3 linked regions of the Homo sapiens genome follow. The protein of the gene in region 2 purifies or fractionates together with the protein of the main gene of each other region. This does not show direct contact. Each region holds a gene or a part of one and is shown on either strand. Other genes may lie near its edges. The genes, in order: CELF1, MKNK2 and TUT7.

Evidence for each region.
Region 1: the proteins of MKNK2 (region 2) and CELF1 purify together in Homo sapiens (affinity purification with mass spectrometry; one large-scale study listed by BioGRID and IntAct). This does not show direct contact.
Region 3: the proteins of MKNK2 (region 2) and TUT7 purify together in Homo sapiens (affinity purification with mass spectrometry; one large-scale study listed by BioGRID and IntAct). This does not show direct contact.

Annotation. Positions count from the first base shown.
Region 1 is NC_000011.10:47,473,027-47,476,675, forward strand, and holds part of CELF1 (CUGBP Elav-like family member 1), read right to left. Parts: intron 2,496-3,649; coding exon 2,310-2,495; intron 206-2,309; coding exon 62-205; intron 1-61. UniProt on the Homo sapiens protein: RNA-binding protein implicated in the regulation of several post-transcriptional events. Involved in pre-mRNA alternative splicing, mRNA translation and stability.
Region 2 is NC_000019.10:2,044,708-2,048,356, reverse strand, and holds part of MKNK2 (MAP kinase-interacting serine/threonine-protein kinase 2), read left to right. Parts: intron 1-1,665; coding exon 1,666-1,753; intron 1,754-1,888; coding exon 1,889-1,990; intron 1,991-2,073; coding exon 2,074-2,171; intron 2,172-3,649. UniProt on the Homo sapiens protein: Serine/threonine-protein kinase that phosphorylates SFPQ/PSF, HNRNPA1 and EIF4E. May play a role in the response to environmental stress and cytokines.
Region 3 is NC_000009.12:86,344,371-86,348,019, forward strand, and holds part of TUT7 (terminal uridylyltransferase 7), read right to left. Parts: intron 2,111-3,649; coding exon 1,929-2,110; intron 1,416-1,928; coding exon 1,299-1,415; intron 785-1,298; coding exon 607-784; intron 1-606. UniProt on the Homo sapiens protein: Uridylyltransferase that mediates the terminal uridylation of mRNAs with short (less than 25 nucleotides) poly(A) tails, hence facilitating global mRNA decay. Essential for both oocyte maturation and fertility.

The sequences.
Region 1 (3,649 bases), on a different chromosome or scaffold from region 2:
TCCTTCTTTCTCAGTGGTAAAATACTAATCCCATCCTGACACCAGAGAGAAGCCAACATACCAAAACACTTGCTCAGGTTTGTCTGCTTGTCTATGAAAACCTTGGCAGACACGACATTCCCAAAGGGCATAAACATCTGCAGCAGGTCCTGATCACCAAACTCCTGGGGCAGGTGGTAGATGAACAGGTTGGCTCCCTCTGGACCTTCAAAATACCCAGGAATTGGAAAAGTATCAGTGTCAAACATGCTCGTCGCCCTGCACCAGTGATCTTTCATTTCCACCTATGTTAAAACTGTCACAATCCCTAAAAACAGAGATTCATCTGGGGAACTAAACAGATTCTCTAAATACAAAGCAAGGAACCAAAGGCAAACATTAAAACAGATTCCTTCCCTCACATTCAGCCAAGCTCCATCTCATTGAGGATGTGAGAAATTCTACCCGCAGGAGGAGGAGTGTTGGGATAATAAAGCAGGCCGACTTGTGTGTGGAGCAGGAAAACAGAGACTGTAGGCTCAGAGAGGAACACAGAAGAGGAGGTGAAAAGGGGTTATAAACAAAACAGGTTTCCAAATAATGCCTAGAAACCACAGGGACAGCAAACAGATTGGTAGTTGCCAGATGCAGGGAATGACTACAAAGGGGCACGAGGGAATTTCTAGGGGTGATGGAAATGTTCCTAATCTGTGGTGATGGTTGCAGGACTAGGACTGTTTGTCAATACTCATATAGCTGTATGCCAAAATCAGTGAGTTTCATCATATGTAAATGGGAAAATAAGAAATTAGTTTTAAAAATGCACCCATGATTAACACTGAGCTTAAAAACAGAATATACATTCTTCATCTGACTATTTACACTCAATGATTTTCTTTTTTTTTCTTTCTTTTTTTTTGAGATAGAGGCTCACTCTGTTGCCCAGGTTGGAGTGCAGTGGCGTGAACTCAGGTCACTGCAACCTCCGCCTCCCGGGTTCAAGCAATTCTCCTGCCTCAGCCTCCCGAGTAGCTGGGATTACAGGCAGGCGCCACCATGCCTGGCGTATTTTTAGTAGCGATGGGGTTTCACCATGTTGGTCAGGCTGGTCTCGAACTCCTGATCTCATGATCTGCCTGCCTTGGCCTCTCAAAGTGCTGGGATTACAGGCGCGAGCCACTGCGCCCAGCCTACTCAATGATTTTCTAACCAAAAAGCTTTATTACAATTGCAGTCCAGCCATTCTCCAGCCACCCTGGCCTCCCTGTTTTTTTCAAACACATCAGGGAACATTGCTGCCTCAGGGCCTCTGTACTTGCTTTTCCTATGCCCCTGTTACTCTTCTTTCTCTAGATTCAGGCATGACTTGCTTCCTACTTCCTTCAGTTCTCTGCTTAAATGTCAATCTAGAGAGACATTCTCTGAGCATTCTGCATAAAATGCAGTGCCTCTGACACTCCCTATCTCTCTTCCCGGCTTGTCATTCTCCAGAGGATCATCTGAAACACCTCATGCTTTCATTTATTTATTGTCTGTCTCCACAGTCTCCACTAAAATATTGGTTCACGCTACATTCTCCTACTACCACATCCCTAGGGGATATAAGTGATTCACAGCAGGTGAGGAGAGATGAACCAGGACTTTCTGCTGTGACAAGAGGACACTCATCTTTTTCCTACATTAGTGCTTATACCAGCTCCTGGTTATAAAAACCCAGTCAAATCTGAGCACAGAGGTGTCAGCAGGACCTTCTATTCATGTAAGTCACCTTCAGGCCTCTTTCTGGCTAAAGAGTCTCTCCTATTTTTCTCCTAAATTGAATACCATTTGTGTCAAACGACATACTTCCCACTCCATCAACTCATGGGCCAAACTCTGTCCCATCACCCCTCAGTTTGTCTTCAATCAGGACAAACATCAATCAGAAAGTGAGGAAAATGCCAAATGATATAGCTAAAAGGGACACTGAAACAGAAGACATCCAGACAGAAGATCCTCTGATAGATTTGTAATCTGTAGAGAAGACCTCCTAACAGAAACATTCTTGTCAAATGTGTCAGACCCGATAAGGTCAGTGTCTGTTGCTTCATCTAAAAACTGCAGCCCCATCCCAAGAGGGCACACAGAGGTTCTGATTTGAGCCACATCCAGAAAACATTTAAAAAGCAGATCACACTTCACAGGGTTTCTCAGTCTACACTTGACACTGTCAAAGAAAAACAATGGTCTGACGACCTAACTGGTTCCCTCAGCCTTTGCTCTGCCTTTCCGTTCTGGTATAGGAGGAAAACCGCCCCCCATACCTGACCCCGATCTCCCTTTGCACTCACCTTCCTTCTGGCTTCCAGCAGCACCAATACTCTGCTGTGTCAGAAGATTCTGGTTGTACAGAGTGGGGAGCGCAGCAGCAGCATATTGCTGGATACCCGAGTAGGCCTGAGTGAGGGCCTCCATGGTGCTCCCGGTGCCATTGGAAAGGCCACTGCTGCCCAGGCCACCATTTAAAGCAGCCATTCCTTGGTTGGAGGAAGAGAAGGATTAATATACTAGAAAGACTAAACTGATGCCAAAGACAAGTCTACTTGGGACATCTAGAAGAGGGAAAACTCCAAAGTTCTCCCCTTTATCTCCCTCTTAGTTTCTCCCTGAGAAGAAACTATCTGACTGGCTAGATTTCAGGACATTCACCAGGCCTTGCTAATGGGGACATTAAGAAATGCCATACGCGGGTGTTGTGCTCCCCATTACCTTCATCCAATCTGTGGAATGAGAGCCTCCATTTTCTATCTGGCTATTCTGCCACTTTCTCATAATGAGCTAGAATGTCATAAAAGAAGAGGCCCAAGACTGCAAACTCAAAGGGGTACATGTGATTTCTGACAAGATGTGGGTGAACCCTACCATTAAAACAGCAACTAACAGGTACTAAGTACATTCTATGTGTCATCTACTGTACTATGCAATGTGCTCAGCAGCACTTTACCTATGTTCTAATTTTTTTTTTTTTTTTTGGAGACAGAGTCTCACTCTGTCACCTAGGTTGGAGTTCAGTGGTACAATCATAGCTCACTGCAGCCTCAAGCTCCCAGGCTCAAGCAATCCTCCCGGCCTCAGCCTCCCAAGTAGCTGGGACTACAGGCATGCACCACTACACCCAGATAATTTTTGTAGAGATGGAGTTCTCACTATGTTGCTCAGGCTGGTCTGGAACTTGTGACCTAGGGTGATCCCCTGCTTTGGCCTCCCAAACTGCTGGGACTATAGGTATGAGCCACTGTACCTGGCCTCATTTAATTTTTAACAATCCTTCAAAGTATTCTATTATTCCCACTTCAAAGATGAGAAAATGTCCTTAGAAAGGTGGTCCGAAGTTATAGCTAGCTAACGGACACAGGTGGGATTTAACTCAGGTCTGATTTAAAAATCCCATGCTTTTTTGAGACGGACTCTCGCTCTGTCACCCAGGCTGGAGTGCAGTGGCGCAATCTTGGCTCACTGCAACTTCTGCCTCCCCGGTTCATGCCATTCTCCTGCCTCAGCCTCCCAAGTAGCTAGGACTACAGGCGCCCGCCACCAGGCCCAGCTAATTTTTTTGTATTTTTAGGGGAGACGGGGTTTCACCGTGTTAGCCAGAATGGTCTCGATCTCCTGACCTCGTGATTCGCCCACC
Region 2 (3,649 bases):
ACGTACATATGTATGCCACCATCTTCCACGGGGGCTGGGCAAAGCCTACTCTAATCTGCACTGTTCCTTGCACCCTGGTCAGGGTCTTGCTCCCATGGTCCTGGGGCTGGGTCAAGAAATGACCCAGCCCCAGCCTGCCCAGTGCAACAGGCCTGGATTTGAATCCTGGCCCCCAGGGCCCAAGGCGGCTTCCTTAGCCGGGTATCAGGGCCCACCAGGGGCTCCCTCCAGGGGTGTCTGGCACTGAAATGGGAGAGTGCAGGATGTGGTCTGGGCAGGGCCTGGCACACTCGCGCCTGTGGGTGCCTCTCCCGTGAGCCCCCAGGACCAGTACAGCACTGTGTATACTGACTCGGTAACTGGTAGCTGCGGGGTTGGGGGGCTGGAAGCAGATGAGCCTCTGGTGGGTGGCGGGGGCGTAGGTGCACAGAGCTGGCAGGGGAAAGGTGTGCCGGGCAGCTGCGGGACATGGGCGGAGGAATGCAGGTGTCTGGGCTTGGGTAGGGGCAGAAGGCAGGGGTGATGGAAGCAGAGCCCCCACCTTCAGCAGGCCCCAGAGCACCAGGCACTGAATTCTTACCCCGCCAGCCCCAGGCACTGAGCGAAAGGGAGGGGAGCAGCTTAGGGGAAGGAGAGGTGGTTGTGTGCCATCTTAGATGGGGGAAACTGAGGCCCAGGGAGGACTCAGCTGCCCTGAGATGGCCCAGGAGGCCGTGGGAAAGCAGGCACAGCCACCAGGCTGGCAGCCCGCCTAGTGACTCACCTCCTTCCCACTGCCCCGCTGCCTTTGATCCCCGCGACCCGCCCCAGAGGTCAGCCGTCCCCATTCTGTGGACAAGCAGACGGAGGTGCAAGACACGGCTTGGGCCCCACGGTGACTCAATCCTGGCATCAGAGGCAGGGTTCCCAAGAGCCAGCTGCTTGTGTCTGTCCCCTCCCCGCAATGCACCCCTTTCCCAGAGGCCCCCAGGGCTCTGCAGGTGGGAGGAGGTCTTCCCCACGGCCCTGTGGAGGTTGGGGCCCATCTTTCTCTGGGGTGGGGCTGTCCTGGGCACTGCAGGGTGCTGAGCAGCACCCCTGCCCCACCCCACTCCGTGCCAGGAGCTCCCCCAACCGGTCACAACCACAGATGTCCCCAGACATGGCCCAGTGTCTCCTGGGGGACAGAATCACCCCCTGGGTTGGCAAATTCCATGGACCCCCTAAGAGACTCTGCGTCCCCTGATCTTGCCTTGCTGAGGTGCTAGGAGGCCTCACGCCTTCCACATGTGGCCCACACCTGTGATCCCAGCACTTTGGGAGGCCAAGGCAGGAGGATCGCTTGAGGCCAGGGGTTTAAGACCAGCCTGGGCAACGTAGCAAGACTTTATCTCTACAAAACATAAATTTAAAAAAGAGAGAAATCCACACACACACTGAGTGTGGGGCAGCGAGGAGGTGAATCCCAGGAGCTTGGGGGTCCCCTGGTTTATGCTGTCTGCCCCTTCGGGAGTTGATCCTGGTGGGAGTTGATCCTGGTGTGTGAGCGGGGACGGAGTTGATTTTTCCGTAATGCTCAGCGCAGGGCTTGTCAGTGTGGACGCTGCGACACTGGGGCAGGATAGGTCTCCCTGCTGCGTGGGCAGGGATGGGGCCTGAGTGCCTCTCCTCTCCTCTCCCCTGCAGGGGCAGAACCCCTTCGAGCTGGCCTTCTCCCTAGACCAGCCCGACCACGGAGACTCTGACTTTGGCCTGCAGTGCTCAGCCCGCCCTGGTGAGGGGCCCGAGGGGGAGGAGGGCACAGGGCAGCTGCTGTCGCTGCCATGGCAGTGGCCAGCCCCTGCAGGGGGGTGGGGGCCGGCCGGCCAGGGCCATGTCCTGAGCCCCCTGGGCGTGCCTCCTGGAACAGACATGCCCGCCAGCCAGCCCATTGACATCCCGGACGCCAAGAAGAGGGGCAAGAAGAAGAAGCGCGGCCGGGCCACCGACAGCTTCTCGGGCAGGTTTGAAGGTGAGCGGGGATGGCGGGCATTGGGGGAGCCGGGAGCGGGGAAAAGCCAGGGTCCCTCTCACGCCCGCCCCGCTGCCCGGCAGACGTCTACCAGCTGCAGGAAGATGTGCTGGGGGAGGGCGCTCATGCCCGAGTGCAGACCTGCATCAACCTGATCACCAGCCAGGAGTACGCCGTCAAGGTGGGCCCGCGCCGCGCCCTGGGGAACCCAGCGCCTTGGGATCGGTGTTGAGCGGGGGTGGAAACAGTGTGTGGCATTCCGGCTGTCCGTCCTACAGCCGGGAAGACCCGTGTCTAAAAGTGGCCACCGGGCCCTGAGTCCAGTCGGGAATGACAGTGAGGGTGGCCCCTCTGGTACCAGGGTGGGGGCTTCAGACAGAGGCACTGTGCCCATTGGGTCCCCTGGGCCGTCCCTGCCTCTGAGCTGTCCCTGAGGGTACATGACAGTTTGGTTTCAAGGATCAAAATGCAATGTCATATCCCAGGGCCCAGAGGGGCTCTGCGTTTGGGGAACCTCAGTGCAGGCCCGTGAGAGCCCCCTGTGTCACTCTAGCCCTGGGCGGCTGCTGGACCCAGGGTGTGGCCGAAGGGCTGGGAGCAGGAGCCCTGTTGAGGCTCTGGTTGTGACCCTGTGACCTTGTGGGCCGGTTGGATCCCGTGTTCCAAGAAATCTTCCAGGCTTCCCTCGTGACCTGGCATCCGGCTCCCGGGCTGGGTGGGGTCCCAGGAGGGCTGGCTGCCTGGGAAAGAGGGCCAGGTGTGCCCTGGCGAGCAGGGCTCGCCAGGAGCCTGTGGGTCCTGGTGGACGGCCAGGCTAGAGCTTTCCTCTGAGGAGAAGGAGGAAGAAGAGGGGTGGCCAACCTGGGGAGGTTACTGGCTAGGTGCTGGGACCACAGTGGCAGCAGGCAGGGACAGACACAGTACGGACGGTCCCTGCCTCCTGGGAGCCCCCAGGCAGGCCAAGGCAATGGTGCAGGAGCACTAGGCCCCTCCGGAAGCACTTCCACACAGCAGGCGTTCCTCTGAGCACAGCCCTCTCCTGGTGGCCCAGCCTTGCTTCCTGTCTTTGTTTGACAGATAGGGACACTGAGGCTCAGGGGGTTAGGTAGCCTGACTCATGCTGTGTGGCCTCTGGGGGATCCTAACTGGTGTCTCAGAGCCACCTCCCTGGTCATCTTGCCACATTGACCTGGTGTGGTCAGTGTTGGGATCTGCAGAGCCTGGGGGACTTCCTGCTGGAGGTGTTGTTGGCCACTGACGTCCGGGAGTTGGTCTGGCCAGGTGGCAGTGGGAGGAGGAGGTGTCCTGGGCGAGTCAGAGAGGCGAATCGCTGGGCCTGTGGGTCTGAGGAGCGTTGTTTCGTTCTATGGGGACTGGGGTGTGGGCCCTCTGCCCTCGGGGTCATGCTGCGGGAAGCCACCCTGGGGTCACCTGGTGCCGTGAGGCTGCTGGCTGGATGCAGAGCCCCCATGCTGGGACCTCAGAATAGGCCCCTTCCATGCCAGGAGGGGCTGCGCCCCCTCCCTGAAGCAGCATTCTAGCCAGCCACCCAAGGGACAGGACGAGGTTCAGTTTTGTCCAGAACCATCTGCAGTGCCTGCTGGGCACAGCTTTCAGCAGCGGCCTGGGTGGTGGTATTTCAGGACACCCTGGCGTCCA
Region 3 (3,649 bases), on a different chromosome or scaffold from region 2:
TGAACATACCTGACCTTAAATTTTCATAGTAATACACTCCAAATAGTTGTGCCCCCTCCCCATCATGCCAAAGGTCTAAAGTTAAAAACAGGCAGAAGACAGACATAACTTGGAAAATCAATTCAACAGTGCACAAAATCCAATACAAATTTCTTAAAACTAGTTTTCAAAGTTCATTTTAGATGCTGCAATTCTCTTAAGTACAGTTAAATAAAATCTTTTTTTTTTTTTTTGACATGAATAACCTGAAAATAACTTCAGGATACTTCTCTTGATTTTAACTCAAAATATGGTGTCAATTTAGATGAGCGGAAAGGGAAACATACATACACAAGAGTCCCACAGTGCCCCAATAATGCAGGGCATTCAACTTAAAGTTCACACACAGGGTAAAATTTATAATGGAAACAGGTTTATAATGACAATGCATATGAAAGTCCTTGTTACCTTAGGGAAAGCCAGGGAAAACAAAAAACAAAAAAATAGAAAACACAAGAGCTTCATGACATGGTAAATAAATTTTTATTTGATGAAAATTACTATTGGTAGGAGAAATGAATGAGGTACTTTTAGGTAGTTAAATAGAAAAACAAATCTAGAAAATACCTGGTAACTTGTGTTGGAACACATTTTCCATGATACGTTTAATTTCCAGCCTCTGTTCCAAGTTCTCATTGTGTAAGCCAAATTCCTGTACCACTTTGTCAATGGCAATGCCAACTGCATTTATCTGGGAGGGTGTTGGTGGGGGTAACGTAGTGAGCAACTCTTCCTCTTGCTTCTCCTTTTAAGATCAAATGTTGAGATTAAAAATGACTTACACATAGTTTTGACCTTCTACCACTCATGAAGACAACACCCTATAGAGTTTTCTTTTTCTTAGCCCTCCCTTCTCATTTTAGCTGTGTTAGTTTTCATCCTATCAAACATATACATACTTCCTTATGCACATAATGTGGATCAGTGGTAACAGAGGATAGGTGGGCATAAGGAGAAAGTGTAAGGAAAGAATATTAAAAACAGCACTTACAAACATTGTTTGCTTTAATACTAGTATAAGGACATATACCTGGGTCCTATCAATGACTTCATATAACCTGATGCTGCCCTTAAGGAAATTCACAAGATTAACCAGTAAAATACATCTGACCAGTATTATGTATTTTGGCTCAAATATATTCAATAAATAAAGCAGTAAAGTTATCAATATCATAGCCTTAAGGAGAAGAAAGCCACAAAGATGACAAGTAATAACAACTAACAAGTAAGCAGACTTGTTTGGGTTACATTCAATTTACCTTAATGTTTTTCTTGTGCCTCTTTTCCTTGATATGCTTATGGGCAAATGCAATGGATTCAATTAAAACATCACAGAGTCTGCAGGTGTACTTTGCTGTAGGGTAGTTTCGTGGTCGCTATAATTTGAAGAGATTTATTTAGAGAGAGACATAAGTAAAACCAAACATTCAGATAAACAAAATCAGCCAGGAAATGATTTCCCCTTCAATTTCTTTTCTCTAAAGAGACAGGAGTCTCACTATGTTGCCCTGGCTGGAGTGAACTGGCTATTCACAGATACCATTATAGCATACTACAGCCCCAAACTCCTGAGTTCAAGCAATCCTCCTGCCTCAACCTCACAAGTAACTGGGGCTACAGGCATGCCACTGTGCCTGGCTTCTTCTTCACTTTTAAAATTGCTACTGTTATTGTTCCCTTTATCACTACCCTAACAGTCATTTTAAGTATAATAGCAATGACTCCTAATCCTATTAAATCACACTGGACATCACTTTTAACTTGTAGTGCTTAAATACTGATAACCAAAGTAGGATATCTAATTGATCAGAGCATGCATACTCAATTAACAACAAAATTGAGGCTAAAACCAGGATTCTAACCAACAAATATATATATAAGGATGTTACCCTTTTTAGCCTGTCAATGCAGTCTCTCTTCAGTCTCTCCTCAGCCTGCTGTAAGCCTAGCAGCTCCTTCGTTGAAAGTACAGACTCATCGATCACAGGGCCTTCCAAGTCTCCATCCTGCTCATTTTCCTCATTTCTAGTCTTCCGTGGCTTCCTAGGTCTGGACCTCTGCTTCTTGTTTTCTTAAGGTGGGGGAAAAATATTATTGGCAATATTAAATAATGCCACTCCTGAGTAAAAAGCAGACCTTACATATGTATTAAATCATGTGAGAGAATAAATCACATCTGCATGCAGAGCAGAAGGAAAGGTAGCTGTCCTATGGACAAAATGCTTTAATACTGTATTCAGTGAGCACATCACCTGTAGACATTAAGCCATAGAAATCATCTTTTTGGAAAATTTAAAAGAATTCTACTTCAATCATACAATTTGATTTTTATTATCTCTTCCTGGTATACTGCTGAGCATAGCAAAGCAACAGAAAAATTATACTCTGAAGGCAAGTATATCTATAATTCTATTATATTAAAATATTACAATACATATTGTAAATATATCTTACATATTCTATAATATCTGTAAGTACACCTGTTATTCTCATTAAAACCAGCCACATTTGCTTTCATCTTCTATAAGTGAACAATCTCAATAAGGCAAAATGCAAAATGTACCCCTGGACAACTCAGAAATCAACTATATACTCATCTGGAGTGAAAAATCATCATTTAGTTGCAAATTTAGCCATCAATAACACCTAAGCCGGGTCCCTCCGTTAATATGAAGAAGTCCAAGCCAAAATTTTATTTACTAAGGACAACTATCTCTCATTTTACCTTTACCTTCATTTTAGCTTCTTTGAATGGCCTGTACACTGAGCATATTTCAAAGGAAAAAAACAACTGGCCATTGAAACAAAAGTTTTCTCTAAGTACATTTGTTTATAAACTCTGCTATTAGTTCTATAATCCTTATAATGAATAAAAATCATCCTGTTCCTTTTTAAAACTTATAACTTTTCAACTTGTTAAAGTGATTGTGGGATTAAACCATAAAAAATTGTTTTAGATAGCTTTGATAACTTATATCGAGTTTTAAAAAATGAAACTATTAGTAACACATTAGTGCTTGGAAACATAAACCTACTGAAAAGCCCTACATGAAGTAATTCCTCCATCAAGTTTTCAGAGGAACTCATTACTACTAGTATGGCAATTACAATGAACTGGCAGGCTGAAAAGGAAATATAGGACCTCCAATTTTATAAAAAGCTTGCTGAGAGCGCTAAAGGATAAGCAGCAAGCATTGTGCTAAAACTACCTGAGATGACTATCTCAAAATTCTGCAAACACCTTCCACAATATAAGAAAATTAAAAAATTAAAAAAAATTAAAGTGTTGGAAAAGTAGTTTTAAAAAATCAATCAAAATACACTGAACAAATAAAATACTAAAAGGTAAGTTGTCATTTCAACAGAAAATCAGGCTACCTTGCGCTACCTTAATATTTCCTTTTTAATACTCCCCCGACTCCCAATTAAATTATCATAATCTTTTAAGGCCAGTATTTCTGGTCTGAACAATTTTTTTTTTTCAGATAAGCACTTCTTTTACTTAGAGATGTATCCATTCTCATTTAGTTTGCTTATCATTATAAACATTATCAAAAAAACTGCATCTAACTTCAGTGTTTATTACAGGTTTCTTAGGCAAAAACTCTAT